Homo sapiens: one gene and its partners. The protein of the gene in region 3 purifies or fractionates together with the protein of the main gene of each other region. This does not show direct contact. Each region holds a gene or a part of one and is shown on either strand. Other genes may lie near its edges.

Evidence for each region.
Region 1: the proteins of SNAP91 (region 3) and TRIM44 purify together in Homo sapiens (co-immunoprecipitation; 2 studies listed by BioGRID and IntAct, with this or other methods). This does not show direct contact.
Region 2: the proteins of SNAP91 (region 3) and MLPH purify together in Homo sapiens (co-immunoprecipitation; 2 studies listed by BioGRID and IntAct, with this or other methods). This does not show direct contact.

Annotation. Positions count from the first base shown.
Region 1 is NC_000011.10:35,656,663-35,667,901, forward strand, and holds the start of TRIM44 (tripartite motif-containing protein 44), read left to right. Parts: upstream 1-6,112; 5' UTR 6,113-6,449; coding exon 6,450-7,118; intron 7,119-11,239. UniProt on the Homo sapiens protein: May play a role in the process of differentiation and maturation of neuronal cells. May regulate the activity of TRIM17. Is a negative regulator of PAX6 expression.
Region 2 is NC_000002.12:237,488,858-237,499,337, forward strand, and holds part of MLPH (melanophilin), read left to right. Parts: intron 1-4,545; 5' UTR 4,546-4,569; coding exon 4,570-4,679; intron 4,680-10,480. UniProt on the Homo sapiens protein: Rab effector protein involved in melanosome transport. Serves as link between melanosome-bound RAB27A and the motor protein MYO5A.
Region 3 is NC_000006.12:83,550,310-83,560,506, reverse strand, and holds the end of SNAP91 (clathrin coat assembly protein AP180), read left to right. Parts: intron 1-298; coding exon 299-403; intron 404-4,261; coding exon 4,262-4,354; 3' UTR 4,355-4,364; intron 4,365-6,221; coding exon of another isoform or gene 6,222-6,236; 3' UTR 6,237-7,622; downstream 7,623-10,197. UniProt on the Homo sapiens protein: Adaptins are components of the adapter complexes which link clathrin to receptors in coated vesicles. Clathrin-associated protein complexes are believed to interact with the cytoplasmic tails of membrane proteins, leading to their selection and concentration.

The DNA of each region.
Region 1 (11,239 bases), on a different chromosome or scaffold from region 3:
AGGTCATAAGACCCCGATTCCAGAGAAAGTCCTGCCCTGTACCTAGAAGGAAGGAATGTTGCACAGAAAGGCCAAGAGGAATCTAGACAGGCAGACCCTGCTGTCTCCCCACTCAGTCTGTTATTGTTATCAGAAAGGGGCCCCAATCTAGACCCCAAAAGAGGGTTCTTGGATCTCGCCCAAGAAGGAATTCAGGGTGAGTCCGTAATGTGAAAGCAAGTTTATTAAGAAAGTAAAGGAATAAAAGAATGGCTACTCCATAGACAGAGCAGACGGCTGTCGGCTGCCCACTTTTATGGTTATTTCTTGATTATATGCTAAACAAGGGGTGGACTATTCATGCCTACCCTTTTTAGACCATATAGGGTAACTTCCTGACGTTGCCCTGGCATTTATAAACTGTCATGGTGCTGGTGGGAGTGTAGCAGTGAGGATCTCCAGAAGTCACTCTCATTGCCATCTTGGTTTTGGCGGGTTTTGTCCAGCTTCTTTACTGTCATCTGTTTTATCAGCAAGGTCTTTATGACCTGTATCTTGTGCTCACCCTCTATCTCACCCTATGACTTAAAATGCCTAACCATCTAGGAATGTAGCGCAGTAGGTCTCAGCCTCATTTTACCTAGCCCCTATTCAAGATGGAGTTGCTCTGGTTCAAACACCCCTGACATTAGCATTAGATCATACCCTTTTTTCTTCAATCATATTTCTACATGGCTGTTCATACTTCATTGACCCTAAGTATAAAAATAGACAGTTTCCCCCTGTACTTTTGGGTCTTCATTCTGAAGACTCTTGTGTAATGTAAAACTTATATTAAATAAATTTATACATCTTTTCTTCTATTAATCTGCCTTTGTTCAGGTGATTTTATAGCAAACCTTCTGAGGGTGAAGTTTCCCCTCCCTTCCTACATTATGTAGCGATAGACAACTAACACAAATTTTATTAAAAAGAATAGTTTTTCCATAACAAAACCCTAAAATGTTAGAATGGTTTTAGAACTGAGCAGAGGGTAGAAGCTGGAAGGACTTTGAGAACAATGTTAGTGAAAGACTAGAGTCTTTGCTGGATGCGGTGGCTCACACCTGTAATCCCAGCACTTTGGGAGGCAGAGGCGGGCACATCACCTGAGGTCGGGAGTTCGAGACCAGCCTGATCAACATGGAGAGGCCCCATCCCTACTAGAAATACAAAATTAGCCGGGCGTGGTGGCTCATGCCTGTAATCCCAGCTACTCGGGAGGCTGAGGCATGAGTATCACTTGAACCCTGGAGGCAGAGGTTGCGGTGTGCCGAGATCATGCCATTGCACTCCAGCCTGGGCAACAAGAGCGAAAAACACTAGAGCCTTTGTAGGTGAGAACTTAAAGGGAAATGAGGAACATGTTTTTGGAAACTGGAGGAAAAGGGTCCTTGTTATGTAGTGGCAGCAGTTTAGTAACATTGTCACCTGCAGTAATGTGCAAAGTAGAAATTGTGCCTAACCAGCTGAGTGTTCTAGCTAAGGATATTTCATGGTAGACTGTTGAAGGTGCTAACTGATGTTTTCTTGCTGATTATAGCAAAATGTGAAAAGAAAGAGATCATCTAAAGGAAGGACTTAAAAAAAAATCCGGAACTTGCAAGTTTTGAAAATTCCCAGCTTCCCCAGATGGCAAATGATGCTACTGTGAAAAAATGGCTTCCAGGCAAGGAAAAACTCCAGGACATTCCCAGCAAAACATCATCAAATGATGAAGGTAAGAGTGCGGCTATAAAATCCTTTGTTCAGACCTCAAAAGGATCTATAGCAGTGATTCATAGAATCATTCAAACAAACCATAGAGCTTGGAGGAAGTTTATAGTGTTGTGCTTTAGTGGTTTCACTGAGGGATTCTACAGAGTAAAGAAGGGTTTATCTTGAAAAGAGCTGTATGTATAATTTTTGTCCAATGGTATGAGCCCCAATTCGATTTATAGAGGATTCACAAAGTTTTCAAAACAATTCTTTGGCAGAAGCACTGCCAGCATGGACACACAGACAGAGTACAAAATGAAAAGTAGCCTTTGGACCTCCTAAATTCTACTTGCAGTAAGCAAATTGATACAATTACACAGCTGCAAACATGAACTACTTTTAATGGAAAAGGAAAGATGACTCAGAGAGTGGAATCAAGAGCTCAATGGGTGAAATAAAAAGCCATGGGGAGTCATTCCTGAACAAGGAGTAGGTTTGAACCCTAATCAAACAGCTTCCAAAATGTGTCTACCTGGATTTAAGGATTCTATGAGCCAGTGACTTCTCAGGCCTCCTGTCTTTCCTCCTTTTTGAGCAGGACTGTCTGTACCACTAATCTTTTTTATTTTTATTTTAGACAGAGTATTGCTCTGTCACCCAGGCTGGAGTGCAGTGGTGTGATCTCAGCTCACTGCAACCTCCGCCTCCTGGGTTCAAGCAATTCTCCTGCCTCAGCCTCCTGAGTAGCTGGGATTACAGGCATGCACCACCACGCCTGGCTAATTTTTGTATTTTTTTAGTAGAGATGGGGTTTCACCATGTTGGCCAGGCTGGTCTCCAACTCCTGATCTCAGATGACCCGCCCGCCTCGGCCTCCCAAAGTGCTAGGATTATAGGCATGAGCCACTGCGCCCAGCCTGTACCAGTTATCTTAAACCTGTCCCACCATTGCATGTTGGGGTGTGGGAGACATAGGCATTCAAATGAACTATACTTGAGGATCTGCACTTAAAACACTACACCAAAGTGCTTCATCCACACCTGGTCCCAATTTAGATGACAGGACTCCAGACTTTGAACTGATAATATAATGGGTTGAGACTTTTGGGGACCTTGGGAAGAAGTGAGTGTATTTTACATTTGGGAGATACGTGAATCATTGGTGGCCAAAGGGCAGACTGTGACAGCCAACCTCCAAGATGGCCCCAAAGATTCCCATCTCTTGGTTTTCAAGCCCTTGTGCAGTTTCTGCCCACACTGAATAGAGCTAATCTCTAACCAATAAGCTATGTACGAAATGATGGCGTGTGACTTCTGAACTTAGGTTATAAAAGACATTGCATCTTCCATCTTGCCCTCTCTTGGATCACTTGCTTTGTGAGAATTCAACTGCCCTGTCTTGAAGACATTCCAGCAGCCCTATAGAAAGTGGTGAGGCCTTTTGCCAACAGCCATGTGAATGAACCATCTTGGAAGCAAATTCTATGCTTGTAGGTAAGCCTTCAAGTGACGATAGCACAGCCAACATCTTTACCAAAATCTCTTGAAAGACCCTAAGTCAGAACCACTCAGCTAAGTCACTCCCAGAGTCCTTGCTCACAGAAACTATGTAAGATAATAAATGTTTATTGTTTTAAGCTGCTACATTTTGATGTCATTTTCTATGTAGCAATAGGTTAATATAACAAGGGTGCTATTTGTGGACACTCCCAAAGATACTAATTCCTGGGGAATCAGATGGTTCGGATTTCTCTGCAGAGGGGTACAGAGATCTGCCTCATTGAGTCTGCCACACCTTGTCACCAGAAATTTATGGAGTCCCTTTTTAATAGTTTAATCTGGCCAGGTGTGGTGGTTCATACCTGTAATCCCAGAACTTTGAGAGGTCGAGGCTGGTGGATCACTTGAGTCTAGGAGTTCGAGAGCAACCTGGGCAACATGGCAAAACCCCATCTCTACTAAAAATACTAAAGGTAGCCGGGCATGGTGGCACACACCTGTAATCCTAGCTACTTGGGAGGCTGAGGCAGGAGAATCGCTTGAACCCGGGACGCAGAGGTTGCAGTGAGCCAAGATCGTGCCAACGCACTCCAGCCTGGGCAAAAGAGCAAGACTCCATCTTAAAAAAAAAAAGTTTAATCTGTCTGCCTCTAAGACCCTTTCTCCACAGAGTGCTCAAGAAGAATTGTAAAGTGTCAGATACTGAACTGCACAGTATTATATTTTAACTTTCTGTCAGATAACATTAAGAAGAAACAGTAATAACAATAATGATGACATGACTCCCCCTCCCCTCATCAAATACCCTGGATACAACAATGTCCTTTTAAGATATTAAAAAGGCCAGGCCTGTGGCTCACACCTATAATCCCAGCACTTTGGGAGCCTGAGGTGGGAGGATCACTTGAGTCCAGGAGTTCAAGACCAGTCTGGGCAACATAGTGAGACCCCGTCTCTACAAAAAATACCAAAACAAGTAGTGGGGCTTAGTGGCTCACGCCTGTGGTCCTAGCTACTTGGGAGGCACTTGGGAGGACTGCTTGAGCCCAAGAGGCTGAGGCTGCAGTGAACTGTGATTGAACCACTGCACTCCTGCCTGGGCAACAGAGAGAGACCCTGTCACCAAAAAAAAAAATAAATAAAAAAAATAAAAATTATTTTCATTGAATAAAAGACTTTCTAAATGTGAGAACGTTATGTTTGTAAAGGCTAAGTTGTTTCCTTTTAAGCCTGGGGGAGGACAGGAGTAGAAATAACCAAGCAAGGCACACTTCTCATTAGGTATATTAACGTTGATGTTTGAGTTGACATTTGTTGAATTTTTTTTTTCAGAATGGTGCTTCAATTCATGTTTCAAAAGCAGACACAGAAATAATTTCCAGAGAAATGAGCTGGGGGAAAACAGAAATGTGTATGGAATTGGAACAAAATAAACCTGATTTTTTTCAACATTGTATAGAATTGTTCTGAGGTTAAAAAGAAAGGTTTCTAAAAAATAAATATCTAACAAAAGCTGCACAAAGATTAGGCATACATTATCCATGGAGACATTAAAAACTATTAAAAAGGTTTTTTTACCCCACCTCATCCCCTGGTATGTTTGAGGAAAGCATCTGGAAATTCTAACTCAAAATCATCTAAGGGAATCAATGTAAAACAGACACCATTCCATCCCCTTTCATCCTTCTTAATACACCTCAGCCTCTCCCTTGACTAGATAAAAACGTAATTTTCCCTCTCCCAAATACAGTGCAAAACAAAAACTCTTCTGTGAATGGAGAGACATGGATATGGGGTAGAGGTGGAGACTTGCCTACATTACCAGCAGCCAGCCGAAAATGCCCTGTGTGTGTAAAATATGTTCCTTCAAAGGGGCATTGTGAGCACTAAATATAATTTGTGCCAAAAATAATAATGAAAGCTTAGTGAATACTCTACAGTGCAGGCATCGTTACATTTAATCCACAAAACTACCCCATGAGGTAGATATTTACCGTTCTTTTCACTTAACATCTTTTTTAAAAAGCGGAAAACAGAATGATGAATTAACTTGTCCATGGTCATAAAACTGATAGGTAGTGGCACCAGGATTTGGGGACCATCGGGCAGAGGATCTTCCAAAACCGGCTTTTAAAGAGCCACAAAAAGATGTAGCCGGGTTCTTGGCACTACAGTACTGCTTTATAAACAACAGTTCCCTTCTTTTCTCTTAGAGCCCAGTGGGAATCTAGAGGGACACCTTACATAAAGGAAAATGACTGCAACCTGGACCTGTCACTCGACAAATACTGCCTCTCCCCACCTCACTTCACCTGACGTCTCTGCCCAACCGAAGGCAGCTCTCAGAAAACCGCACAGAGGTTACCACCCCAGAAATTCTGAGATCCTAGGAGGTAGCAATGCAAATAGACAAAGCACAGTATTGCTTTGGATCGAAAATATTTGTTTGCTCATCCTAACTCCAATTCCCCTAGCCTAGAACAAACATAGCCCTTCCGCACTCAGGAAATCCCAAGAGGTCAGGTTCAGTCTGGTAAACAACACTGTCCGGGCACCTTGCAGAACACTGGGGACTGTGACGGGCGGCGACAAATTGGCACAAGAGAGACTGAAATGCACAGGGACACCAGCCTAGTGGCCGTGAAAACTCAAGTTGACACTTCCAGGGAGGGAATGGGGGAGGTGGAGCCCAATTCCTGCTTCTGGAGAGAGTAAGAGACTTCCTCCATCCTCCTTCTCCCTCCTCCTCCTCCAAGGCACGCTGAGATTTGGAGCGGAGGAGCTGAGCCCCGCGGGAAAAGCAGAAAAGGGTCATTGCCACTTTAAATGACTCAGGAAGTAAAAGGAGGCCTCCTGACGGGGAAAGGGAAAGTGGAACCGGGGCGGCGCGGGGGCCGGCGGCTGCCGCGATCTCTCCCTGGTAGCGGGAGGCTGAGCGGGCGGCGCGACGCGGGGGCCGACGGGGGCGCCGGGTGGCCGCGCCGGAAGTGCCTTGCGCGGCAGAGGAAGCGCAGGGACAGAGCGGAGCAGGCCGAGCCGGCGGAAAGGGTCTTTGCTGCTGCGCCCGGGCAGGGGCTGCCGCGGCCCCAGGTCCCGCTTCGAGACGCGGCGCGGTCCAGGCGGGAGGCGACTCCCTAGGAAGGGACCCGGGGCGGGAGGAGGAAGTGAGGCCGCGCGGAAGGAAGGCGGCGAGCCCCGGGGCCCCGAGGCCTTGGCCGCGTCACAGCACCCACATGGCCTCTGGAGTGGGCGCGGCCTTCGAGGAACTGCCTCACGACGGCACGTGTGACGAGTGCGAGCCCGACGAGGCTCCGGGGGCCGAGGAAGTGTGCCGAGAATGCGGCTTCTGCTACTGCCGCCGCCATGCCGAGGCGCACAGGCAGAAGTTCCTCAGTCACCATCTGGCCGAATACGTCCACGGCTCCCAGGCCTGGACCCCGCCAGCTGACGGAGAGGGGGCGGGGAAGGAAGAAGCGGAGGTCAAGGTGGAGCAGGAGAGGGAGATAGAAAGCGAGGCAGGGGAAGAGAGTGAGTCGGAGGAAGAGAGCGAGTCAGAGGAAGAGAGCGAGACAGAGGAAGAGAGTGAGGATGAGAGCGATGAGGAGAGTGAAGAAGACAGCGAGGAAGAAATGGAGGATGAGCAAGAAAGCGAGGCCGAAGAAGACAACCAAGAAGAAGGGGAATCCGAGGCGGAGGGAGAAACTGAGGCAGAAAGTGAATTTGACCCAGAAATAGAAATGGAAGCAGAGAGAGTGGCCAAGAGGAAGTGTCCGGACCATGGGCTTGATTTGAGTACCTATTGCCAGGAAGATAGGCAGCTCATCTGTGTCCTGTGTCCAGTCATTGGGGCTCACCAGGGCCACCAACTCTCCACCCTAGACGAAGCCTTTGAAGAATTAAGAGTAAGTATTGGGCCTTCAGAGCATAAACCTAGGGGTCAGGACACCTGGGTTTCAACTCAGGTGGCCTGGCTGTGACCACATTCGCTTTCACTGTGTCCCTAAGAAGCTAGTCTTTCCAACTTTTTGGGAGCAGTTCTTATTCACCGTTTTTGGTTGAACTCTTTTGAGAATCTGATGAAAGTTCTGGACTCTGACCTGAGAAAATACACACAAAATCTAGTATACAATTTCTAGAAAATTGCAAGTTTCTGGTCTGTGGATCCCAGGTAAAGCATTTCTTGGGAGTTTTGACCCCACTTAGGCCAATTTCCACAGCATCACTATTGTTGAAACTGGTGCTTTGTGCTAGGGCTCTTGATAAGGCAATCTTTTTGCCTACTTGAAAACATGGGAAATAGGATTTTGCCACATGAATCCAAGCAAGTGATACGTCTGCATTGAAAAGACTAACAAAATAGTTTTAATAGTAACTTCATATGTGCCCCGAGTTCATTTTAGATTCTTCGTGTTTGAAACTTAGTAGAAAAGGAGGGTAAGAAGATGGAGGCCAAATTGGGGTGGGAGTGGAAGTTCCCATGTCCTCTGTCTGGATCTTTGTCTGTCGTGGACCTTACTGGTCCCCCAGAACAGTGGACACTTCGGAAATATTTGTTGAATGAATGAATTTGCAGACGATGCACCTTTTATTCATATTGTGGATGTTTACTATCATTGAGAGAAACTGCTGGTGTTAATCGGGGAGGGAGGGGGAAATTTTGAGTGGAGTGATCAGTTCATTAAGTAATCTGTATTAGTGAACATTGTCATATTATGATGACTTTTGCTTCCCTGAATAGGGAATAGCTGGCATTGGGATAACAAATACCTTGAGAGTGAAGATCCTCTGTATTAGGTTTTCCCTTTTTTAGTGCCTATTTATAATTGTAAAATGCACATTCAGAAAGTGTGTAAAAACTTACAGTCTAACAAATAATTATAAAACAAGTACTGAGGTAGTCTCCATCCAGATTAAGAAATAGAACATTACTAGCAATATTGAAGCCTTTTCCCCATACCTTTTCCAATTATAACCATCTCTCTTCTGCATAAGTAAGCATAATCTTGACTTCTGTGATCATTTCCTTGCTTACCTTTATGCTTTTACTCCATGTGTATGCATTCCTAAACTTATTTGAACTTGACACTATGGGTGTCATATTTTTATCATGCATTCTTCTGGGTTTTGCTTCATTTTCTCAACATTGTGTTTGTGAGAGTCATCCTATGAGTGACTGTAGTTTATTCACTTTCATTACTATTTCGAATTCCATTTTATGAATATGCCACAAGTTATCTATTCTGTCATAGATGGTCATTTGATTTGTTCCCAGGTTTGGGAGCGTCGGGCTGTTACAAACAATGTCAGTGTAAATATTCTTGGTCATGTCTCGGTGTACATTTAACATACATTTAAGTGGAATATAAACGCAGGAGTGAAATTGCTGTGTCAGAGGCTATGCATATCTTCAGTAATACTACATGTTGCCAACTATTTTCCAGAGTGGTTGTACCAGTTTGAATCACTATGAAGAGTATATGAGAGTTCCTGTTGCTCTGTATCTTCAAAACTTGCTATTACTGTATTTTTCATTTTTGTCAATCTTGTGGCTATGTAATGGTATTTTATTGTGGTTTTAATTTTCATTCCTCTGATTACTAATGACTTTGAGGATCTTTTATACTTCCTCTGTGAAGTACCTAGTCAGTTCTTTTGCCCATTTTTCTATTGAGTTGTCTTTTCTCATTATATGAGTTTTTATATATCTGTTTTTTTTTTTTTTTTTTTTTTTTTTGAGATAGAGTCTTGCTCTGTTGCCCAGGCTGGAGTACAGTGGCTAGATCTCAGCTCACTGGAACCTGCGCCTCCCAGGTTCAAACGATTCTCCTGCCTCAGCCATCTGAGTAGCTGGGATTACAGGCACATGCCACAATGCCTAGCTAATTTTTGTATTTTTTTTTTAGTAGAGATGTTTTTGCCATGTTGACCAGGCTGGTCTTGAACTCCTGACCTCAGGTGATCTGCCTGCCAAAGTGTTGGGATTATAGGTGTTAGCCACTGTGCCCAGCTATATATTTGTTTCTGATTTTTTTTGTTGTTCTTTCTATGTGGGTTGCAAATATCTTCTATGTGGTTTTTCTTTTTAAAGAAGTTGTGCCTTGAATAGAAGCTCTTCATTTTAATGTGGTAAAACTTATCAATACTTTTCCTTATGGTTAGTGCTTTTTGTGTCTTGTTCTACTTAGTATTGATTTTTGTGTAGTAGAAGTAGGGGCGCAATTTCATTTTTTCTCCATACAGATGGCCAATTGCTATTGCTGTATTTATTGAAAAGCCCTTCCTTTGTGCACTGATTTGCTGTCCCACTGTCATATATCAAGTGCCCATAATATGTGTGAATGTGTTTCTTGGTTCTTCTGTTCTCTACTGTTTATCTGTTAGTATATCCCTGTGTGAACAGCATGTTTTCTCAGTTATCCCTTTATAATATGTCTTAATATCTGGTAAAGCAGGTCCTTCCATCTTGTCCTACAAGAGTGTGTTGGCCAGTTTTGGCACTTTACATTTCTTAGAATCATAGTATTAAAAAGCCTGCAGGAGTGTATTTGGATATTAAATTTATAAGCCAATATAGGGAGAATTAATATCATTACAACATGAAGTCTTCTGATTCATTAATTTAGGTCTTTTTTATTGCTTCGCAGTTAAGTTTTATATTTTTTTCCTCAAAGATTTTTCACATCATTGTAAAATTTATTCCTAGATACTTCATAATTTTATAATATTGTAGAAAATATGAGCCAGGCACAGTGGCTCACACCTGTCAGCTATATGGAAGGCTGAGGTGGGAGGATTGCTTCAGTCTAGGAGTTTGAGGCTGCAGTGAGTTATGATCCTGCCATTTCCCTCCAGCCTGGTCGACACGGCAAGACCCTATCTCTAAAATAAAAATAAATGGTTTTAAGTTTTGTTTTCTAATTGAATATAGGAATATGATTAACTTTTATATATTGTTTTTTTGTGATCTATCTGCTGAATTATCTTACATATCCTAATAATTTATCTGTAGATTTATTCTACATACCTGATTGTATTATGTGTGAAGAGAGATACTTTTTGTTTGTTTCTTTTCAATCCTTATATCTGTTATTTGTTTTTTCTTGCCTTACTGCATTGGATAGCACCCCGAGTATTATGTTGAATGGATGTGGTTGGTGGGTATTCTGGCCTTGTTCCTAGTCTAGCAGTAATTGATAACATTGCACAAATAAGTGATATGTTCTATGGTTTTTGAAAATAGATATGTTTTATCAGTTTAAAAAAATTCTAGTCCTGGTTTGCTAAGTTTTTCTGAATTTTGATTGGTTATTTAATATCAAATGCTTTTTTTGCATCTTTTGGGATGATCATGTGATTTTCTCTTTCACTTTTATGATGATGAATTACATTAATTGATTTACTTATTAAAGTTAATTTTTAAAATCAGTGATACATTCATATACCTCAAAAGCCTGTGTCCTTTTCACCTGATTCTTCTACCAGCTGTTGGTAACTACTTGTTTTTTCTTAGAAACAGGATCTTACTCTGTTGATCAGGCTGGAATGCAGTGGTGGGAGCATAGCTCACTGTAATCTCAAATTCCTGGGCTTAAGCAATCCTCCCACCTGAGCATCCTGAGTTGCTAGGACTACAGGTGTGCCACCATGCCTGGCTAACTATTTATTTTTTATTTTGTAGAGATGGGTGTCTTGCTATGTTGCCCAAGTTGGTCTTGAACTCCTAGCCTCAAGCAGTCCTCCCGCCTCAACCTCCTACAGCTGTGGGATTACAGGCTGTTCCTGGCCAATAACCATTTTTATTAGTTTTTTGGTTACCCTTCAGGTGTGTGTTTCTGCAAATATAGGTGTGTGCATATATATGGTCTTACTTTCATCTCTTCGTATTGTTGTATTTTATAATTAAAGCAGAAAGACTAGCATTTCTGGGATATCCTTGATCCAACTTGGTCATAATGAAGTAGCCTTATGTTTTTGGATTTGGCTTATTAATAATTTATGTAGTTTTTTTTCATTTATATTTATG
Region 2 (10,480 bases), on a different chromosome or scaffold from region 3:
ATAAGCCCCAGTCTCAGTGGTTGGGGCAGCCTTCTAGGGCCAACTGTCTTGTTCTTTTCAGAAGCAACCTCTGGAGGAACAGTCTTTGCCCCTACTCCTCCCCACTACCCCCACACCATCACTCCCCCTCTTAATTTCAACATCCTGGCATCATCCAGGGCTGGAGAGGGCCAGAGAGGTCTTGGAGCTCAGCCATTGTCCATGGTACAGATGGGGAAACTAAGACCCTGAGAGGAGGGGCATCTTTCCCAGGTGGCTGGGCTGGCTGTGCCTGAACTGGGATGGGAACCCAGCTCCCACCTCTCAGCACCATCCTCCTACAGCCTCACCTGGGACCCATCCTTGCGGTAGAGACTAGCACTGAGGCTTTAGGTGTAAATGCAGAACTCATGTCCATTTATAAATGAGGTTTACCACCAACTCCCCAGAGAACTGGGAGAGCAGAGGGGATGGCAAGTTGGTGGGCAGGTGGCTGAGGGGCAGAACACCCTCCCAGTGCTGTTGCTGCTGGGGCCATTCCAGACCCTTGTGGCTACAGCACAGATGTGCCTGGTTCACTTGTAGGGAAGGGAGTGGCCCTTCTAGGTGGAAATGTGCTCATTTAGCCACTGATGAGAGCTGGGGGTCAGTGCCTACTGATGGGCCCCACCTATAGAAATAACCATACAGGCTGACCTGGACGGCAGCATTCGGGAAACAGCCACAAAGGATTAAGGCAGAGGGCACTACAGTTGTCATCTCTGCCACCTCCCCTTTATCAGCAAGAATAACACCACACGACACACCTTGGCTCTGAGTCAGAGAGAGCATTCCTGCTGTTGTTAGCTTGCCAGTTTGTTTGCCCAGGCGAGTAATCACCCACAATCACCATTGTTCCAAGGCTCCCCAAGCAGCCAGCCCAAGAGCTAGTTAAGCCAATTCTTCATCCAGGAGGAACCCCCACCCTGATTTCCCTTCAATTTGGCCAAAAAATTAATTCAACTCTTTAGCGGATAAAGATGACACACTACTGGAATTCAGCAGTCTGGGCCTGGGATACCCATCTTATAAAACCAGCTCCACTCTCTCCTCCCTGCCTATTAATCCCTGTGTCCCGTCCCTCTGCCCCACTATGGCTATTCAACTGCTGGGGAAGGCTGGCTGTCTCCAATGTTTAAAATATGATCGAATCTGAGCAGTGGAACAGGCAGTAAGTGGAAGTGTTTTGTTCAGGAACCTCGTGAGCAGGCGTTATCTAAACAGAAATGGAACAAGGAGCAGATAGAGCAGGGTGGCGTCTGCCCTCCCCCAGCACATACTCTGGGAGCCCCCACCCCACCCAGCTAGGGCAGGCACAGAGCAGCCCTGCACTCCTCATGGGTCTAGCATATTCTCTGCCCTCACCTCCCTGAGCCCATGGAGGTCGAGGCAGCAGTGAGCCATGATTGCACTATCGCACTGCAGCCTGAGCGACAGACCAGGACCTCATCTAAAAAAAAAAAAGAAAGAAAACCATTTGAAAGGGGATAGAATGGGGGAGGGACAGATATCCAAGCAGCCTCTAGGACATTGGTTGTGATGCTCTGTGATCTTTTTATCCATTCACTTCCTGGTCACTGACTGTGCTCTAAGAATGTGAAGCTTGCAAGACAAGAAAAGCAGGTTTTTCCTTTTGTTTTGCTTTTCTTCCTCACACATCATGATTTAAGTTTCTCAAACTGAGGCCTGGAATTTTGGCTTCTATGTTAGGAGAAGAGAGGGAATGATAATGCCTCAGCTGATGGTCACACTGTCCATCCATTCTGAAAATAGAATGTCGGTGAATGCTCTTCTTATGATCCCTTTTTTTTCAGAACTCATGAAAAATAAAAGTGAATGAACTCCAGTCATGCATCAAATAATAACTTTTTGTTCCAATTCTTTAGAAACCAGAAAGTGTGTGCTCTGTGAGAGCATCAAAAATGAGTTCGGTAGTAAGTCCATTTCTTGACCAGAACCTAAATCTGACTGTAAAGGAACAGAGTTTGAATGCTCCCAGGGCATTGGGGCAATCTCTTCTTGTATTGCAAACACTCAACTTTATGTTTGAGAGTGGAAATGTTGACGAATGGGTGCAAAAAAATTCAACGAATTATCCTTCTCCATTTTTATGGCATAAGCCAGGGACTATTTTGGCTGACTTCCATGACAGCTCTGTAGACATTTTTATTTTAAATGGTATCTGCCCAGAAAATGTCCCTTTTCATAGTTAACCTCTTGTGCAACAAAATCGAAGTACGTCTCCAGCACAGGGGGAGTTTTGTTAGTATTTTTATGATAAACGCTTCCAAATGGTCAGCAGCACTGATGGGAGATGCTTCTCAGAATTCAGAAGCAAAATTGTGTCTTTTTGGTGGTTTTGAGACTTCCCCCTGAAAGCACACAGATTGGACCCCTTCTCTAATGTTCCTGAGAAAATAGGTTCAAGTCCTCAAGGAAAACTTATTGAAATTACGAGGTGGTTTTTAAACTTTCAGTTACTCACAACAGAACTCCCAGTCATCCATTCCCCAAAGCGTCAGTGCCCAGAGCAGAGCTGGTCTGTCTGTAGCTGCAGCATCTGAGGGCCGAGGGCTTCCCTGGCACAGCCTGCTGCACACCAGGGAGCTGCAAGCACAGAAAAGCACCTGCCATGTGCTGGGAACGGACAGAGGTGCTATTCTTGTGGAGCTTAACAATAACTAATGAGACATCACCAACTGTTAAGGGGTATAAAGAAACGTTAAAGGGATGGGGACAGGTGAAGGAGTAAAAACCACAGGATGATCAGGGAAGTCCTCTGTGGGGAGCGTGCACAGTTTTGCAGTGTCCCAGTGTGCATGCATTGGTGGTGAAGTTCTCCCTGGTACAATTGTTCCTCCAATTTTATACCCAGCAGTAATGTCCACATCAATATAAGCTGTGAGGCCTGTGTGATATTGCCATATGAAAAGCCAGCAAGTGGATCTGTCATTCTCTGCTCAGCCACCACCACTGCATCACTCCCCTGCCTCACACCCATCAACCACCTGACAGGATGTACAGGCCAAGGTCCTCTGTGACTCGCCGCCCACTACCCAAGTGAATGAGTCTCCCCTAGAGCTTTGCTACTCAGAGGGGTCTGAGGACAACAGCATGGGCCAACACGTGCACTCGAGCTGCCTGGAGATCTTGTTCAAAGGCAGATTCTGAATGAGTAGGTCTGGGTTGGAGCCTGAGAGTCTGTACTTCTAACAAGTTCCCAGGGGATGCTGCCAGTCCACGAACCACATTTTGAGTAGCAAGCAAGATTCTAAGGTTCCACCTATCTTGGCTTTTGACATTTGGATTTTCCTTCCTCTGTCCTTTGGACATTGATTGGGATCAGGTCTGATGAACTTCAAAAAAAAAGGGCATAAGATCATCTGAGGTTTGACTTCTTGGTCATCAGGTTACCTACAAACACAGCATCACATAGTGCATTGGGTGGGGCCGCTGCTCTGCTGAGCAGCTGAGTCACACCAGATTCTCAGACAGGCACCATGGCTCTTTGGGAGGCCAAGGCAGAAGGATTACTTGAGCCCAGGAGTTCAAGACCAGCCTGGGCTGCATAGTGAGAACTCGTCTCTAAAAAAAAAAAAAAAAATTAAGTAAAATTTTAAAAAATTTAATTAGATTTGCTGAGGGTGAGGCCTGGCCACCAGTAGTGTTAGGTGATCCTAATACACCCCAGGCATGAGAATCCCTGCTGGGCAGCCCCACAGCTGACCTCTCGAGTAAATAAATCTCAGCACCTACTGCTCATCCTGCCCAGATGTTTTGTTCTCCCAAGTTGCATCACTTTTGCCTCCCCAGGGAAATTATGTGGATATTCCCAGCACAAGCACATCGCCCTCACAGGCATCAGGCTCATATGACCTCCCCCTGGAACCACCCCCAAACACACACATGGCAAACCTAAACAGCCCCCCACGCCCAGAGGATGGTGAAACCTTCCAAGTGCTGTGGAGTCTCCCAACTTTTCCACCTAGTGGGTCAGTCATCCAGGCGTCCCTGCCCACACAGAGCCTGCAGCATCGCTCTAGGAGGTCTAGGAGATGCACAGGAGACTCTGAGCTGACTATGAATTTGCTGTGAAGTTTCCTCTTTTCTGTGCTGTTCCCTCTCCCAAGAAACTTAAGGCGAGAAGCCTCAGGAATGGCGCATTTCTCCCAGGGTTTTCCATTGCAAAGCCCAACCCTAGGTGAGGGAGAGGAGCCATGCCCCTGGATGGGGAGATCACTGACGTTCATCCCACAGTGGAAAGAAAATGAGAGACCCGTGGCTGAGTGTGTTTGGGAGAGTAGGAAGTAGATCCCTTTTAAAATTCGAATGTGGGAATTTTGCATAGATTCACTTAAATTCATTAAACTACACAAGTTTCCAGACAAGCATTAGAAAACCATTTAACCCAAGTACAGACAGATGTCCTGAGAAGTCAGCAGCGTTCTGTGTTGTCTCTTACTCTGTGACTTGATTGGTATTGGTAGGCTTCTGGGACTGATGACTTGTGATCCTGTGACATTCCAGGTGTGACCCCGACAAGAAGCAGAAATGGGGAAGAAACTGGATCTTTCCAAGCTCACTGATGAAGAGGCCCAGCATGTCTTGGAAGTTGTTCAACGAGATTTTGACCTCCGAAGGAAAGAAGAGGAACGGCTAGAGTGAGTGTGCCGTGCTGAGCCCACGGAGCCCGGGGTCCCTGATCTTCCCCCAGGGCCATCATATGGGTGCTGTCTGGGTGGGTCAACAGCCACGTGCAGGGTGAAGAGTGATGGACAGGAAGCCAGGTCTGGGACACAGCTCTTCTTTCTGGCCTTGGTTTTCTCAATGAGAGGATCTGACTTGCCAAACTGACATTCACTTGTTCTCTGAATAGTTTTATTTCAACTTGACCCAGCTTCCAGGGTGATATATCCTAAGCCAGGTGATACTTAGGCCACATCTTTGAAGAATAGAGCAAAAGGTGATACATGGGGAAAGTCTCCATGCCATTCTGAAACACCTAGATGTTGGAATCAAGTCTTTAGGACAGAGGCTGCCCTTCCACCTCTCTTTTCAGCAATGCCAGGTAGCATCCCGTCCTCACCATGGGTGACCCCAGCACGGTTTTGTTCCACTCTGCCCAGTGACTGGGCTAAAACCCACCCATCCTTGTTCACTCTATCCACTGCGCATCTTCCTCCCCCCTCTATCTTCTGGGCCCCCTTATCCTTTCTTGATGTCTTTAGTAGATTGGGTCACCCTATGGGAAGGAAGCATATGAGGGAAGTAGTTAAGCAAAAGCTGAGAGGATGCTCCCGGCGAAGGGGGGGGCAGAGAGCAGAGGACAGAGGGCAGAGGGTGGAGGGCAGAGGGCAGAAGGCAGAAGGCAGATGGTGGAGGGCAGAGGCCAGAGAGTGGAGGGCAGAGGGCCCCGCTGAAGATGGCAGGAGGGAGCCTGGTGTGCCCCAGGGAGAGCACAGGCTGGCGAGGCTGGAGTGGAGTAAATGAGGGGGCCAGGAAGAGAGGCAGTTGGAGATGTAACAGGTGGGGGGCATGGGATCTGGTGCCAGTCACGGGGGTCCTGTAGAGCTTCACAGGGCCTCACCCTTCCCCTGAGTCACCACAGACCTTCGAGCAGAGCAACAGCAAGTCCTAGTTTCTGTTTCACAGCGGTGGGCTCTGTGAAGTGGCCAGATGCACTTTGCAGGCAGAGCCAGCAAGCTTGACCAGAGATCAGATGGGGGGTCTCCAGGGTGAGAGGGATCAAGGGCAACTTCAAGGTTGTGGCCTGAGCAACTTCAAGGACAGAGTTGAGGTCAGCTCTGCTGGGGAGGCCACAGATGGAGAGGTTTGGGGGAAATGTTTCAGGCATGTTGAAGTGACATCACGCAGGTGTGTTGAGCGGGTGTTGGATACATACACTAGTCCGGAGCTCAGAGGAGATGCGTTACGAGAGCTTCGTAAAGGTGAAGCTTCATATGGTGAAACGGATGAAAGGTATTTGTATTCATTTCTGGGACTGCTGCATATGTGACTTGTACAGTACAGATTTAGTGGTTTAAAACACACAGCTGTCCTGCAGTTCTGCAGGTCAGAGGTCCTAAAATCAAGTTGTCCTCAGAGCTACATTCCAGCTGGAGGCTGGAGGGAGGACCCATCTCTCGGCCTTTTCCAGGTTCTAGAGGCTTCCTGGATTCCCTGGCTCCTGGCCCCTCCTCCACCTCCAAGGCCATCAGCACAATGTCTAACAATGTCTCTTTCTGCCACTGCCTCTCTCTCACCCTCCCTCCCTCACCTGTGCCTCCATGCTCACATCTCTCTCTTTGACTTTCCTGCCTTCCTCTTTCCCCTATGAGGAGAAATATGGTTACATTTAGGAACTGCCCGTATCATCCAGGACCCTCTTCCCATCTCAGGATCCTTAATGTCATTCCATCGGCAAAGTCCCTTTTGCTATGTGAGGTGACATTTTCACAGGTTCTTGGGACTAGAACATGAATGCCTTGGGGCAGGGGGTGGCAGCATTGTTCAGCTGACCCCAGCATTTAAAGCTGCAGGGCCATAGGAGACCGCACTGGAAGGGAATTTGGATGGGGACCAGCCCCGGGGACGTGAGCTCAAGCATGTTGAGGAGACAAAGCACCAAGAAAGGAGAGAGAAGGAGCAGTAGAAGAGGGACTTTGGGTTCCCATGCTGAACAGGGTCCGCAACAAACCGTTAGGTGAAGCAAGAGCAGTTCAGCCCCACATGGAGCAGGAGGCGCTCGTGTTGGTGGGGAGGGGCCGGCGTCAGAGCCTCCCCACCGTGTGATCCCCCACTCTCCCTCGGCCCTGGACCACCAGTCACCCCTGGATTTCATTATAGCCCAGGTTTCACCACCGGCCTCGGGGGAGGGCCCAACCTGCTGGCCCTGGTACAGCCAGTACCAGCCTGGTGGCCATGGCCGGCCACGACCACCTTCTCAAAGCCTGAGCAGAGGCTGCGGACCAGCATGCAGCTGACCGCAGGGCTGACACCCTGTCCCCTTTACTCTGGCAGGAAAATGCGGTCTCACGGGCCCCGTCCTCACCCCTCCACTCTTGAGTCTCAGATCCCCCATTTCCACATTCTGAAGTCCCTCACCCTCTCTTTCCCATTCTCTCTACGTAAACTCAAATGTTCTCTCACTGTTTTCACCAGAGCAGCAATCCCTGCGTCAGCTTTGGCGTTCAGGCTGTGCCAAGGGCAGAACATCGTTCTCATTAGTAGAACCCCCTTCTGGGTGGATCCTTCCCAGGTGCATCCTGCCCTGTCTCCAAGGCAGCCCTGGCTATTGTCAGCCCTTATTTCAAATGGCAACTTGTAACTTCTCATTGCCTGAGTATAGGCGAATGCAGAGAAATGGAAAAGGGGGGAGAACCATGTTTTCCAAGGAGCAGAGGGAGGGAGCAAGTGGGGCCTGGGGGTCCCGGACAGGCACTGTCTTCCAGGGGACTGCTGAGTGGTCCGCCCTGCTCCAGTCCAGGCTTATCTGAAGCGGGTTTAGCAGAAACCCCCATGCGTTTCCTGTCTGTGGCTCACCCCCTTCTGACACCCGTCTTTCCTTATTTCATGCTCTTTTCATCATTTCACATTGCAAAGAAGGGACACACCCAGGTCACCTCCCAGAACTCTTAGGAAAGGACGCACCCAGGTCACCTCTCAGTACTCTTAGGAAAGGACTTTTGTAAGAATATGGGTTCTGATGACCCTGCCTGGTGGGCCGCTGATGGCCAGTTGGTTACAGCCGAGGTCACATTGTTCATTCTGTGCCTGAGGCTGTTTGCTCAGAATGAGCCAGTGGCTGGGGCGTTAATTGGCCCAGTCTGCTATGTGATTAGGGGGGGGCTTGTTAAGTCCCCAGATGTCTTCCGATGGGAAGGGGCCGCATGAGCGTAGAGTACTGTGTTGAAAATGTCAGTGAGCAGAGAGGCAGTGCTATGAAAAGCCTGTGTCAAGGTAGTGTTAGGTCGAGAATACTGAATGCCCAAGTGGCATTGCTATGATGGGTCTTACTATGAGAGTACATGTCAGCAGGTGACACATTTGGGAGGCAAAGAATCATGTAAACCAGTGGTCCCCAACCTTTTTGGTACCAGAGACCGGTTTCATAGAAGACAATTTTTCCACAGATGTGAGGGGCTGGGGGAGGAGGCTGGGGGCAGGGTTGGAGATGGTTTCAGGATGAAGCTGTTCCACCTCATTCTCGTTCTCATAAGGAGCACACAGGCTAGATCCCTCGCAAGCACAGTTCACAACAGACAACTATGGGAGCTCTATGAGTATCTAACGCTGCCGCTGACCTGGCAGGAGGCGGAGCTCAGGCGGGAAATGCTCTCTTACCTGCCAATCACCTCCTGCCGTGCAATTCGGTTCCTCACAGGCCAGGGACACTTACTGGGCCACAGCTGGGGCTTGGGGACCCCTGATGTAAACAGTGTGGTGGCAGAGGTAGTTAAGAGGTTTTTGAGTTTCTTATTGTTTCATTTGTGCTTGTCTTTTGTTGACTGCCCTATTGGTTAAATATGTCACTAAAAGGAGAGCTGCCTCTACCTGTGAGAAGACTTTTCACAGGTGCCTCGTGAGCCCCGGGGAGTGGCAGGGCCCCAGCGTGTGGGCACGCATCAGGTGCAGGTGACTTGAGCACCGCAAGGTCAAAACACGCCTCGCAGTGTGCTCTGCTCAAACCAGGTGGTGTGGACGCTGTGCAAGGCCACAGAGGAAACAAGCATAGAAAAAAGGCTCTGGTTCTTGGCACCAAAATTGGTTCTGCAGAGGAGCTGGCGAAAATACCAGAAATCCATGATGAAACGGAAGATAACTCTTACAATAATGAACCTCCTTCCCTGTCTTTCATCATTGCTAATCTGTGCGTTTAACCAATTTCAACATGAACAGTCATCTGTGTGCTGCCGCCACAGAATCCCGTTCTCTGTAGCGTCTCTCTGGGTGACATCCTCGGGGTCCTCATGTCTGCTCCCGGTCACCGAGTCTTAAATATCTGAATCAGCAAGAGGCTGGATGAAGAAACTGGTGCTCGAGGGACCACTAAGTAGGTGGCGGTAACAAATGTAGCAATTCAGGAGCCGCCCAGCAGTTTCCCATGTGTCTCACAAACTCTGAGAGGGAAGCCCGTGGGCGCGACCCAGCCCGAGGAAACTCAAGGCCACTGATTGGAGAGAGGAGAGAACAGGGGTGGGGGAATTGTGAAACCAAGAAACACACCATCGTTTCTTGGAAAGAGCTTTACTACCCAGAATATGCATCAGGGGAACACAGCATGCAGACTCAAGGCCAGTGCCCCAGAAACAAGTTTGCCAGGGGGTTGATTTGCTTAAGAGCGGATTCACTTAATGCACCAATTATCAAACCAAAGAAAATGCATTTCTTTTAACAGTCTTAAAATTAGCAGATGTGTGTCAGATGGATTCCTGCTCAGTATTTCTCTCCAGATGTGAGCATCAATCACGTTGAAGGACGCTGGGCAGGGTCTGGAGGTGACGCCTGCGCCTTTTCCCACAGCGTCAGAACAACACAACTTTGATTTCTCCTCTGTCAAAGCAGGGACAAACAAGCTGGTCCAGATCCCTGATATGCTGGAGGAAGGAGGGCATGTGACCCTGAGACCCCCATGAGCAGCATCCTGTCCCCAAGCCACGGAAGCTCCTGCTCCCTTGGCCAGGCCTGCCCCTCCCTCCAAGCTGTGCTGTGGACATTCGGTGACGCACACGCCTGACAAGGCTCTCCTTGCTGGCCCTTAGGAGGGATCGGTGAGAAGGAAGGGGAAGCCAGCACGTCTTGATCTAGCCCAGGCAGGCATAATCTCTCTCTCAAGTCATCTGTGCCACTAGGGATTTGGGAATGGGCTGTTTGCTATATAGAGTGGGAGGGCTGTTCCTGCCTCCCACGAGGACACAGTGCTGTGCACCATAGAATCGAAAACTTGAAGATGTACAAAATTAGGATGTTAGCACCACTGGCATCAGATAGGCATTTTAGGATAGATTTGACTTAACACCCATGTCCTATCCCAGGAGCTGCCCGATCAGCAGCCCCTTCTCAGCCTTTGTCCCTCCTGACCCTCTGCTTGTCCTGGGTGTAACTTTCCCCACACTCTCTTGACTTTACTCTGTGGTTAGTTTGAAGCCTCCTCTTTTTCCCGCTGGCCCATTATTGGAATAAATTGCCAATGACAGATCTTCCCGGAGGGTTTCGTCCATATGCTTTCATGGATGGATCTTTTAAATGGTCAAAGAACAGATAAATCCTGTGTGATTTAAACTGCTTCACGGCAGAGTGTTCACTAGCCTCGCCCTGACACCTCATATTGATGAAGATAAAGAAAAATATATACATAGCCCTGTTAAATCATCATATAAATAGACCTAAGGCTGCACTGTCCAGGACAGAAGTTACTAGCCACTAGTGGCTATTAAAATTAATTATAATTAAATAAAATAAA
Region 3 (10,197 bases):
AAACAAATTTTTCTCTTTCCAAGAATTATGCTTACAGAAGATGAATAAACAACAACAAAGCTTGGTTGGGATGGGGATACCATGTGGCCAACCAGGCTTATGCTACCCACCCACCTTAGCGACTCTCTCCCTCACAGTACAGCCTCACATTATCCCTAATTAAAATTACAAATTATGCTTCCTCATAGTCCTGGATTCCTCAAATATTGTCAGAAGTACATAAAAGCAATAAATGTCAGGATAGTGCCCTAGTGAGTTCCACTCATGCTCTGAACCACTCTCCATTCTTCCTCCTCAGCCTCCTGCTGGGACAGGCATGCCCATGATGCCTCAGCAGCCGGTCATGTTTGCACAGCCCATGATGAGGCCCCCCTTTGGAGCTGCCGCTGTACCTGGCACGCAGGTCAGTTTCTTCAATGTCCACAAATCAGTGACATTAACTAATAAGTGTAAAACATTGGTGTAGCAAACTGTTTAAAAAGTGTTTTTACCTAATGTAATCCTCATACCTGTTGCTTCAGAAGTAAAGGGAGCTTGGAAGACAGATCTGCAAAAGTGAGATTTGGGGGGGAAAAAGTGATGGAAATAACTCACTGTCTAAAGATCCCTCCATTCTCTTCCTACTTAATTCATATTGGTTCCTGAGAACATCCAGATATTCAGGGCATCCAAGGCATGTGTCCCAGAGAAATGAATGCTTCTGGTCTGTAGTTTTAGTATGTGTTCCCAGCGTTAGCCAGAAAGGTTGGCAGCACAGTCCTCCAGACTGCCATGTCCACCCAAGACTCGTGACACTAACTGCAATAAGTTTGCCAAACTGCAAAGTCTGTGAGAATACTCCCTTTTAGAATCTCCTCACTCCAGACGCAAGACACATATTTGTGAGTCCCCAGGACCACCCCCACTTCAGACTAGCTGGCTACAAATTCGAGGTTTTTCCATGGCCAGGTTAGATAGTTTCCTAGAATGATTCACAGAACTCAGGAAAGTACTAAACTTATAAGAGTTTTATTGTAGTAAAAGGATACAAATTAGATCCAGTTATAGGAAGAGATGCATAAACATCATCTGGGAAAGTTCTAAACATGAAGCTTCTTTGTCCTCAGAGGTGGGTTCTCCTGTGGACATCATCATGTGACAGTACACATGCAGTATCGCAAGCTCACCTGAGCTTCAGCATCCAGCATTTATTGATGCTTCATTATGTAGGATTGGTTGGTTGAATTGTTACCCATTTTGTGGAACTCAATCTTCAACCCCTGTTCCTCCCTGAAGATCAGGCTGGTTTCATGTGGCCCAAAGACCCAGCCCTAAAATCTCATGGTTGGGCTTTCTGCCTCCACTCTGAGTCACCTTGTTAGCATAAACTGTCAGGTGTTGTTCCCAGAGCCCACCTTGAATAACAAAGACATGCCTATCATTTGAGAAATTATAAGGATTTAGAGGTTCCCTTTCTGGGCAAAGGAAAAAACCTCAGTTTAGGTAAAGCTAAATTCCTTACTACACACTGTGCTACTTACCCTTCAAAAATGCCAAAATATGTTACACTTTGTTGAACCGTTTTGCTGCTAGTGGTGCTAGTCTTAGTGATGAATCATGCTTTCCTGATTCCTCTTTTAAATTGTCTGGCCAAGGTGATGTTACATGTAGAACCAAAGAAGTTTTCATCATGAGAAATTGACTTGGATGGGCAGGACACCAAATTACTACTTTGGTAGCAGCATGCTTTACAAACTAGAGCAAATAGCTCAAATATATTTTAATGATATGAGTAAATGTTTTCAGTCCTATAATATTTTTAACTTATCAAATCAGTATTTATACTGTCTTATCCATGGAATACCTGCTGCTGTGAACTTTCTGAGTATACTTTAATCCCTTTTGCTTCCTTGATGCATCTCTAAATCCATTGACCTGTTCCCAAAATTTCCTTTCAGCTTCTTCACTTTGCCCCTCAAAAGCAACAGGGACCAAGAGAAAGAATGGTGGATGTTGAAAGACAGAAATTTAGAATGTGAGAAACCCTAGCCTTCATGGCCATTACTGGCCATAACTGGCTTCAGGAGAAATTTTCTAGTCTATGTGAAGACTGGTGAACCCTGTGTAGTGTTGTTTTTGGGGACAGTCAGGAAGGTTTTGGGTATAATGGTTGAGGTTAGGTATAACTTAGATATACTTAAATTCTAAGGGATCTCATTTATCATAAATATTTCCTTGATGTTTGAATAGTTCCATGACTATCATCTTTTTGAAAAAAAAGAAATATTTCTGTTATTATGCACTTGGAACAATGTTACTGAGATTTCTTTTAACCTTATTGTGTTTGATATACTGAAAGCTTCAGAAATAAATAAATATAATTTTATTACTTAAGGCAGTTGTTTTTATTGTGTAATACCAAAGTTAGCAACAATTTATTTACTTAATTAGAAGAATGAAAATGAAAAATAGATAGTATGATGGGAATACATTGTTTCAATCAGTAATTGAATTCATAATAAGCCAGGTAATGATACACCATATTTATGTAATTTTTAGATTATATTTCCTATATCAGAGAAGAAGCATAATTATACTAGATAATAAAATAAATGTGAGTTTGTAGCTTCAGAAAACAAAGTAGTTTTTTTATTACTGATGCCTGGACTATCGCAGCATTCTTTCATTGGCTGGTATCATGATATTGTCATCTCACCTAATTATCAATTATGGACCAATCTTTGAATTGATTTAAGGAAGTTCAAGCCTTACTTTATTTATATATATATCTCTCTCTATGAAACAGATCCCAGGTTTTTTGTTGTTATTTTTTTGTTTGCTTATTTGTTTATTTGAGATAGGTTCTCACTCTGTTGCCCAGGCTGAAGTGCAGTGGTGCAGTCATAGCTCACTGCAGCCTTGAACTCCTAGGCAACAGGGATCCTCTCACCTCAGCCTCTCGAGTAGCTGGGACCACAGATGCAAGCCACTGTGCCCAGCTATTTTTTTTTTTATTATTTTTTGTAGAGATGAGGCCTTGCCTTGTTGCCCAGGGTGGCCTCGAACTCCTGGCCTCAAGTGATCCTCCTGCCTCGGCCTCCCAAAGTGCTGGGATTTTACAGATGTGAGCCATCACACCCAGCCCATATCCCAGTTTTAAACATGGAAATTTGACAGATAGATAATATAATTAGTCAGTAGTTTCTGGACATAGGACCAAATCTCAAAATCCATACTTCTGGAACTCTGTTCACTGAACTAATAAAAATATACAACACTGCCCCACAGTCCCAGCATGTTACTACAAGCATAGGAGATTAATTAGACTCAAAGCCTAGATGTCAACTATTACTCTATAAACTACATGAGATTTTTCAAGACCTTGTATCCTGTAAAAGTCAGCTCCCAGAAGTTATATCTGTGACACAATGAAAAAATAATTTAGATTCTGGTTAAACAGAAACAAGGCAAGTTAATTATTTGTTACTTTTGCAACAAGTCCAATATGATTCTTTCCTATAGTATTTAATAATTAGTTTTGGCCTTCTCTGAGAGCTGAATAGATTGCATTAGAATTTTAGTGGCATTCACTACCAGGAAACTATTTGGTCATGTGAAACAAACAGTGCCCTCAAACTTGACTGATTTTCACTTAAAATAATGTATATGAAATTCTAGTATATTTAGCTAATAAGTGTAAGTAATTTCTTAAATAGCTTTCTGCAAACCGTTTCCTATTTTTCCTTCAAATTCACTCTCACTACAGGAAAAGCCATTTAAATAGATTTATTAGTTTAGAGGTACTAATGACTGAAAGTAAAAATGCTTTTGTATAGAGAAAACGGTTGTTTGTTTGTTTTACTGTTTGTTCATAATATCTTTATGTTACTAGTGTTTCACATCTTCCCTAAGTCATACCCATATTGTTCTACTGGAGTCCCCAAATTTTACTTTGGCTAAATCTGATGTCAGAGAAGTTCAAGAAAGCCAAATATCAGTTGAAGTATATTTTACCAGTCCAGAATTAAACACAACTCTGTGACTATGTAGAACAAGTAGATTTCATAAGCCTTTAACCATCTAATCTTCTGCAGGTTTGTTTTCTTTGATATGTGTTCTGCCTAATGCTTTTCTCTCTCTCTCTCTCTCTCTCTCTCTCTCTCTCTCTCTCTCTCTCTCTCTCTCCCCCTCTCCCTCTCTCCCCCTGCCCCCTCTTCCCCCCATGTCTCATTCTCTCTCTGCTTTCTATTCCTGCTCTTTGGGGCTGGCTTTTTCCCATTAGCTTTCTCCAAGCCCTACACCTGCCAGTCAGAGTCCCAAGAAACCTCCAGCAAAGGACCCATTAGCGGATCTTAACATCAAGGATTTCTTGTAAACAATTTAAGGTATCTAATATTGAGCTTTTCCTGTAGGCTTGTAATAATGAGCTATACAATGCTTAGCTATTTCAGAGGTACTCATTATTTCTGCGTTTTGAATAGCTGTGTATAATAGTAATAATTTGAGTGTTTATACTTTTAAATTTGATATTAAAAGCTCTCTTTAAGAGTTTTTTAAATCTTAATTTATGTAACTAGGAGGGAAAGTAACCTCCAAATTGTCCTTATCCTGGAAAGCACAACGATTAGCTTTAATAAAGCAAAAAGGTGCCCAAGCTACTTGGTAAATTAGAAAATTACCACTTTATTACATGATGACTTGAATTTATAGAAAGCTAACATTTATACTATTGCATTTAGAAATCATCTAAGAATATATTTGACTGCATAATTGTATTTTTATTTTGTTTATCCTTCTTTTGCCTCATAAAGCTTAGATTATTACCCTTTACATTTCTGCATTCAAGCAGAGTTTTAAATTTCTAATGTTCTAGTTTTAAATTTCACAAATTTCATATAATTTATGAAATGACTCATGCTGAAGTTATGGAAGGAAACGAATGAAGGAAAAATGTTTACTGTTGACCCCAGCACCTAACACAGTGGGTAGGTTCTCAACAAATCCTTGCTGAATGGATGAACATAATTTACACGGTACTTTTCACATCCACTTCTCAATAGAACAGTCATGTGAGATAAACTATCCAGATATTTTTTGTCTCCATTTCACAGCTAAAAGAACTGATCCTTGGGCATTAAGGAATTTGCCCAGGGTCCCACAGGGAAGAATTGTAAGAGGCTCAGTGTTTTTGGACTCTTGTCCAATGTTGTTTTCAGTATGCACCTGCTGTGCTACATATATTTCTTAAAACCCTTCCCTAATGTCTACTAAGATTTTTGTGGATTCTTGATTTGTTTTTTTTTTCTTATACAAGATTAATGATGCATTATTCTAAGGTATTAACATCTCAGTCAAGTAAACTCTCCTTATGCCCAACTTTTCTATTCCACTTTGGATTGGCTAATGTAGACATAAGTGAGACAATGAACACTTAATAGTTTCAGGAGTGACCAAGGAAACTGCATAGAGCAGCCTGTATTCACCTCTTACTTAGTAAATGTTGCCCTAATCATATGCCAGGAACTTTGATAAGTACAGGAAACAGATATGCTTGAGACAGTCCTTGCCTGAGAGAGACAGAGACAGACAAAGAGAAAGAGAGACAGAGACAGACAAAGACAGAGACACAGAGAGAATTACTATTTTATGAAGAGTTATCTATGCGGCTAAGCCTTAAGACCCCACAAATGTTTCCAGCAGAAATGAATGATGCATGAATTAGCCAGGGAGATGAGTGGGAAGTGGCTGAGGAAAGGCATCGGGTCGCCAGGGATCTCTCTGTTCTCTTCTATTCTGTCACTGGTTCAGCTGTTTAGAAAGTGACTCATTGAACACCATAACTGAATACATGAAAAAATAATGTAAGGTCATTGCCATGCCCCCTTTTTCTTTAGCTGCCCTTTTTAAAGGTTGGCTGCTCTTAGATACTGAATGCTATACCGAATGTCCTGCTACTAAAATTTCTAATATGTATCTAAATTCAAATTTTTGTTGATATAATTATTATCTAAAATGAAACTATACATCAAAAGTTTTTTTTTAATTTCTGGCTAAACTTTAAAAATTTTAAGCTTGTTTTAAAGAGCTATGAAAAGTATGTAAATTTGAATTTGTCCATGCAGAGACCTTTTTATGTAAAAGTTGTTTTCAGAAACTATGAAGTAAAATTGCAAGGGAGGTAAAATGTTTGAGGACTATGTAATAATCTTGTTTTCTAATTCTAGTTTTTGTTTTCTTTACAGCTGCAATATTTGTGACTGAATAGGAAAATAAATGAGTTTGGAGACTTCAAATAAGATTGATGCTGAGTTTCAAAGGGAGCCACCAGTACCAAACCCAATACTTACTCATAACTTCTCTTCCAAAATGTGTAACACAGCCGTGAAAGTGAACATTAGGAATATGTACTACCTTAGCTGTTATCCCTACTCTTGAAATTGTAGTGTATTTGGATTATTTGTGTATTGTACGATGTAAACAATGAATGGATGTTACTGATGCCGTTAGTGCTTTTTTGGACTTCACCTGAGGACAGATGATGCAGCTGTTGTGTGGCGAGCTATTTGGAAAGACGTCTGTGTTTTTGAAGGTTTCAATGTACATATAACTTTTGAACAAACCCCAAACTCTTCCCATAAATTATCTTTTCTTCTGTATCTCTGTTACAAGCGTAGTGTGATAATACCAGATAATAAGGAAAACACTCATAAATATACAAAACTTTTTCAGTGTGGAGTACATTTTTCCAATCACAGGAACTTCAACTGTTGTGAGAAATGTTTATTTTTGTGGCACTGTATATGTTAAGAAATTTTATTTTAAAAAATATAAAGGTTAACGTCCATAATAAATACTTCTCTTTGAAGCTACCTTATCAAGAACGAAAAATCGTATGGGAAGAATCCCCTATTTATCACTGCTATATTAAAATATATATATTTTAATTATATTTGACAGGTTTTGCATCTAAATTGACCTATTTATTCATTCTTGATTAAATGCACTGAAAAGTAAAGGGTCTGTTTGTGTCATGTTCATGAAAATGCGGTTAGAGAGGTGCTATTCAAGTGATTCTGAAGGCACCCCAAGGTATATCTGTAATTTAAAGATTACTGCAAATATCTTTACTTTACTGTGGGTTTTTAGTACATCTGTTAATTTAGTGTTTCTTTGTGTGTTTTGTAGACTAGTGTTCTTCCATCCTTCAACTGAGCTCAAAGTAGGTTTTGTTGTAACATTGTGATTAGGATTTAAACTAATTCAGAGAATTGTATCTTTTACTGTACATACTGTATTCTTTAAGTTTTAATTTGTTGTCATACTGTCTGTGCTGATGGCTTGGCTTAAGATTTTGATGCATAAATGAGGTCACTGTTGATCAGTGTTGCTAGTAGCTTGGCAGCTCTTCATAAAAGCATATTGGGTTGGAAAGGTGTTTGCCTATTTTTCAAATTATTTAATAGATGTATGGTACCATTTAAAAGTGGTTGTATCTGAATTTACTGTGGGGATAACATACACTGTAATGGGGAAAAATTACCTAAAACCAATTTCAAAATGGCTTTCTTTGTATTTCAGTTTAAAAACCCAGTGCATGTACGCCCTCTGAGATGCAATAAACACCTTGAACAAAGAAATGCAAACATAACGTTTCTCTCTTTGATTATGTTTGGGAAAAAGGTCTGTTTCAAATGACACACACAGCAGACAAAATACTGAAGATTTTAAAATGCTGTTCATGCCAATAGAGTTTTGATTATTTTATAAAAAATTAAAAACAAGGAAAAAGAGCAACTTTAACAAGCCTTCATTAAACTTGGGTCTCTGTAACTGCTGCCAAATGAGTTGAAATTCCATATTTCAAAATGTATATGTATTTTTATGGTGAACTTTCTTTTATTTATTTTTTTAATTGTACTTTAAGTTCTAGGGTACATGTGCACAACGTGCAGGTTTGTTGTTACATATGTATACATGTGCCATGTTGGTGTGCTGCACCCATTAACTCGTCATTTACATTAGGTATATCTCCTAATGCTATTCCTGCCCCCTCCCCCCCACCCCACAACAGGCCCCGGTCTGTGATGTTCCCCTTCCTGTGTCCAAGTGTTCTCATTGTTCGATTCCCACCTATGAGTGAGAACATACGGTGTTTGGTTTTTTGTCCTTGCGATAGCTTGCTGAGAATGATGGTTTCCAGCTTCATCCATGTCCCTACAAAGGACATGAACTCATCCATTTTTATGGCTGCATAGTATTCCACAGTGTATATGTGCCATATTTTCTTAATCCAGTCTATCATTGTTGGACATTTGGGTTGGTTCCAAGTCTTTGCTATTGTGAATAGTGCCACAATAAACATACGTGTGCCTGTGTCTTTATAGCAGCATGATTTATAATCCTTTGGGTATATACCCAGTAATGGGATGGCTCGGTCAAATGGTATTTCTAGTTCTGGATCCTTGAGGAATTGCCACACTGACTTCCACAATGGTTGAACTAGTTTACAGTCCCACCAACCGTGTAAAACCGTTCTTATTTCTCCACATCCTCTCCAGCACCTGTTGCTTCCTGACTTTTTAATGATTGCCATTCTAACTGGTGGGAGACGGTATCTCATTGTGGTTTTGATTCACATTTCTCTAATGACCTGTGACATTGAGCATTTTTTCATATGTTTGTTGACTGCATAAATGTTTTCTTTTGAGAAGTGTCTGTTCACATCCTTCCCCCACTTTTTGATGGGGTTGTTTGTTTTTTTCTTGTAAATTTAAGTTCTTTGTAGATTCTGGATATTAGCCCTTTGTCAGATAGCAAAAATTTTCTCCCATTCCCTAGGTTGTCTGTTCACTCTGCTGATAGTTTCTTTTGCTGTGCAGAAGCTCTTTAATTAGATCCCATTTGTCTATTTTGGCTTTTGTTGCCATTGCTTTTGATGTTTTAGTCATAAAGTCTTTGCCCATGCCTATATCCTGAATGGTATTGCCTAGGTTTTCTTCTAGGGTTTTTAGGGTTTTAGGTCTTACGTTTAAGTATTTAATCCATCTTGAGTTAATTTTTGTATAAGGTTTAAGGAAGAGATCCAGTTTCAGCTTTCTGCATATGGCTAGCCAGTTTTCTCAACACCATTTATTAAATGAGGAATCCTTTCCCCATTGCTTGTTTTTCTCAGGTTTGTCAAAGATCAGATAGTTGTAGATGTGTGGTGTTATTTCTGAAGCCTCTGTTCTGTTCCATGGGTCTATATATCTGTTTTGTTACCAGTACCATGCTGTTTTGGTTACTATAGCCTTGTAGTATAGTTTGAAGTCAGACAGTGTGATGCCTCCATCTTTGTTCTTTTTGCTTAGGATTGTCTTGGCTATGCGGTCTCCTTTTTGGTTCCATATGAAATTTAAAGCAGTTTTTTCTGAATTCTGTGAAGAAAGTCCATGGTAGCTTGATGGGGATAGCATTGAATCTATAAATTACTTTGGGCAGTATGGCCATGTTCATGATACTGATTCTTTGTATCCATGAGTATGGAATGTTTTTCCATTTGTTTCTGTCCTCTCTTATTTCCTTGAGCAGTGGTTTGTAGTTCTCCTTGAAGAGATTCTTCACATCCCTTGTAAGTTGTATTCCTAGGTATTTTGTTTTCTTTGTAGCAATTGTGAATGGGAGTTTGCTCATGATATGGCTCTCTGTTATTAGTGTATAGGAATGCTTGTGATTTTTGCACATTGATTTTGTATCCTGAGAGTTTGCTGAAGTTGCTTATCAGCTTAAGGAGATTTGGGCTGAGACGATGGAGTTTTCTAAATATACAGTCATGTCATCTGCAAACAGAGACAATTTCACTTCCTCTTTTCCTAACTGAATATCCGTTATTTCTTTCTCTTGCCTGATTGCCCTGACCAGAACTTTCAATACTATGTTGAATAGGAGCGGTGAGAGAGGGCGTCCTTGTCTTGTGCCGGTTTTCAAAGGGAATGCTTCCAGTTTTTGCCCATTCAGTATGATATTGGCTGTGGGTTTGTCATAAATAGCTCTTATTATTTTGAGATCCATTCCATCAATGCCTACTTTACTGAGAGTTTTTAGCATGAAGGGCTGTTGAATTTTGTCAAAGGCCTTTTCTGCATCTATTGAGATAATCATGTGATTTTTTGTCATTAGTTCTGTTTATGTGATGAATTATGTTTATTGATTTGCGTATGTTGAACCAGCCTTGCATCT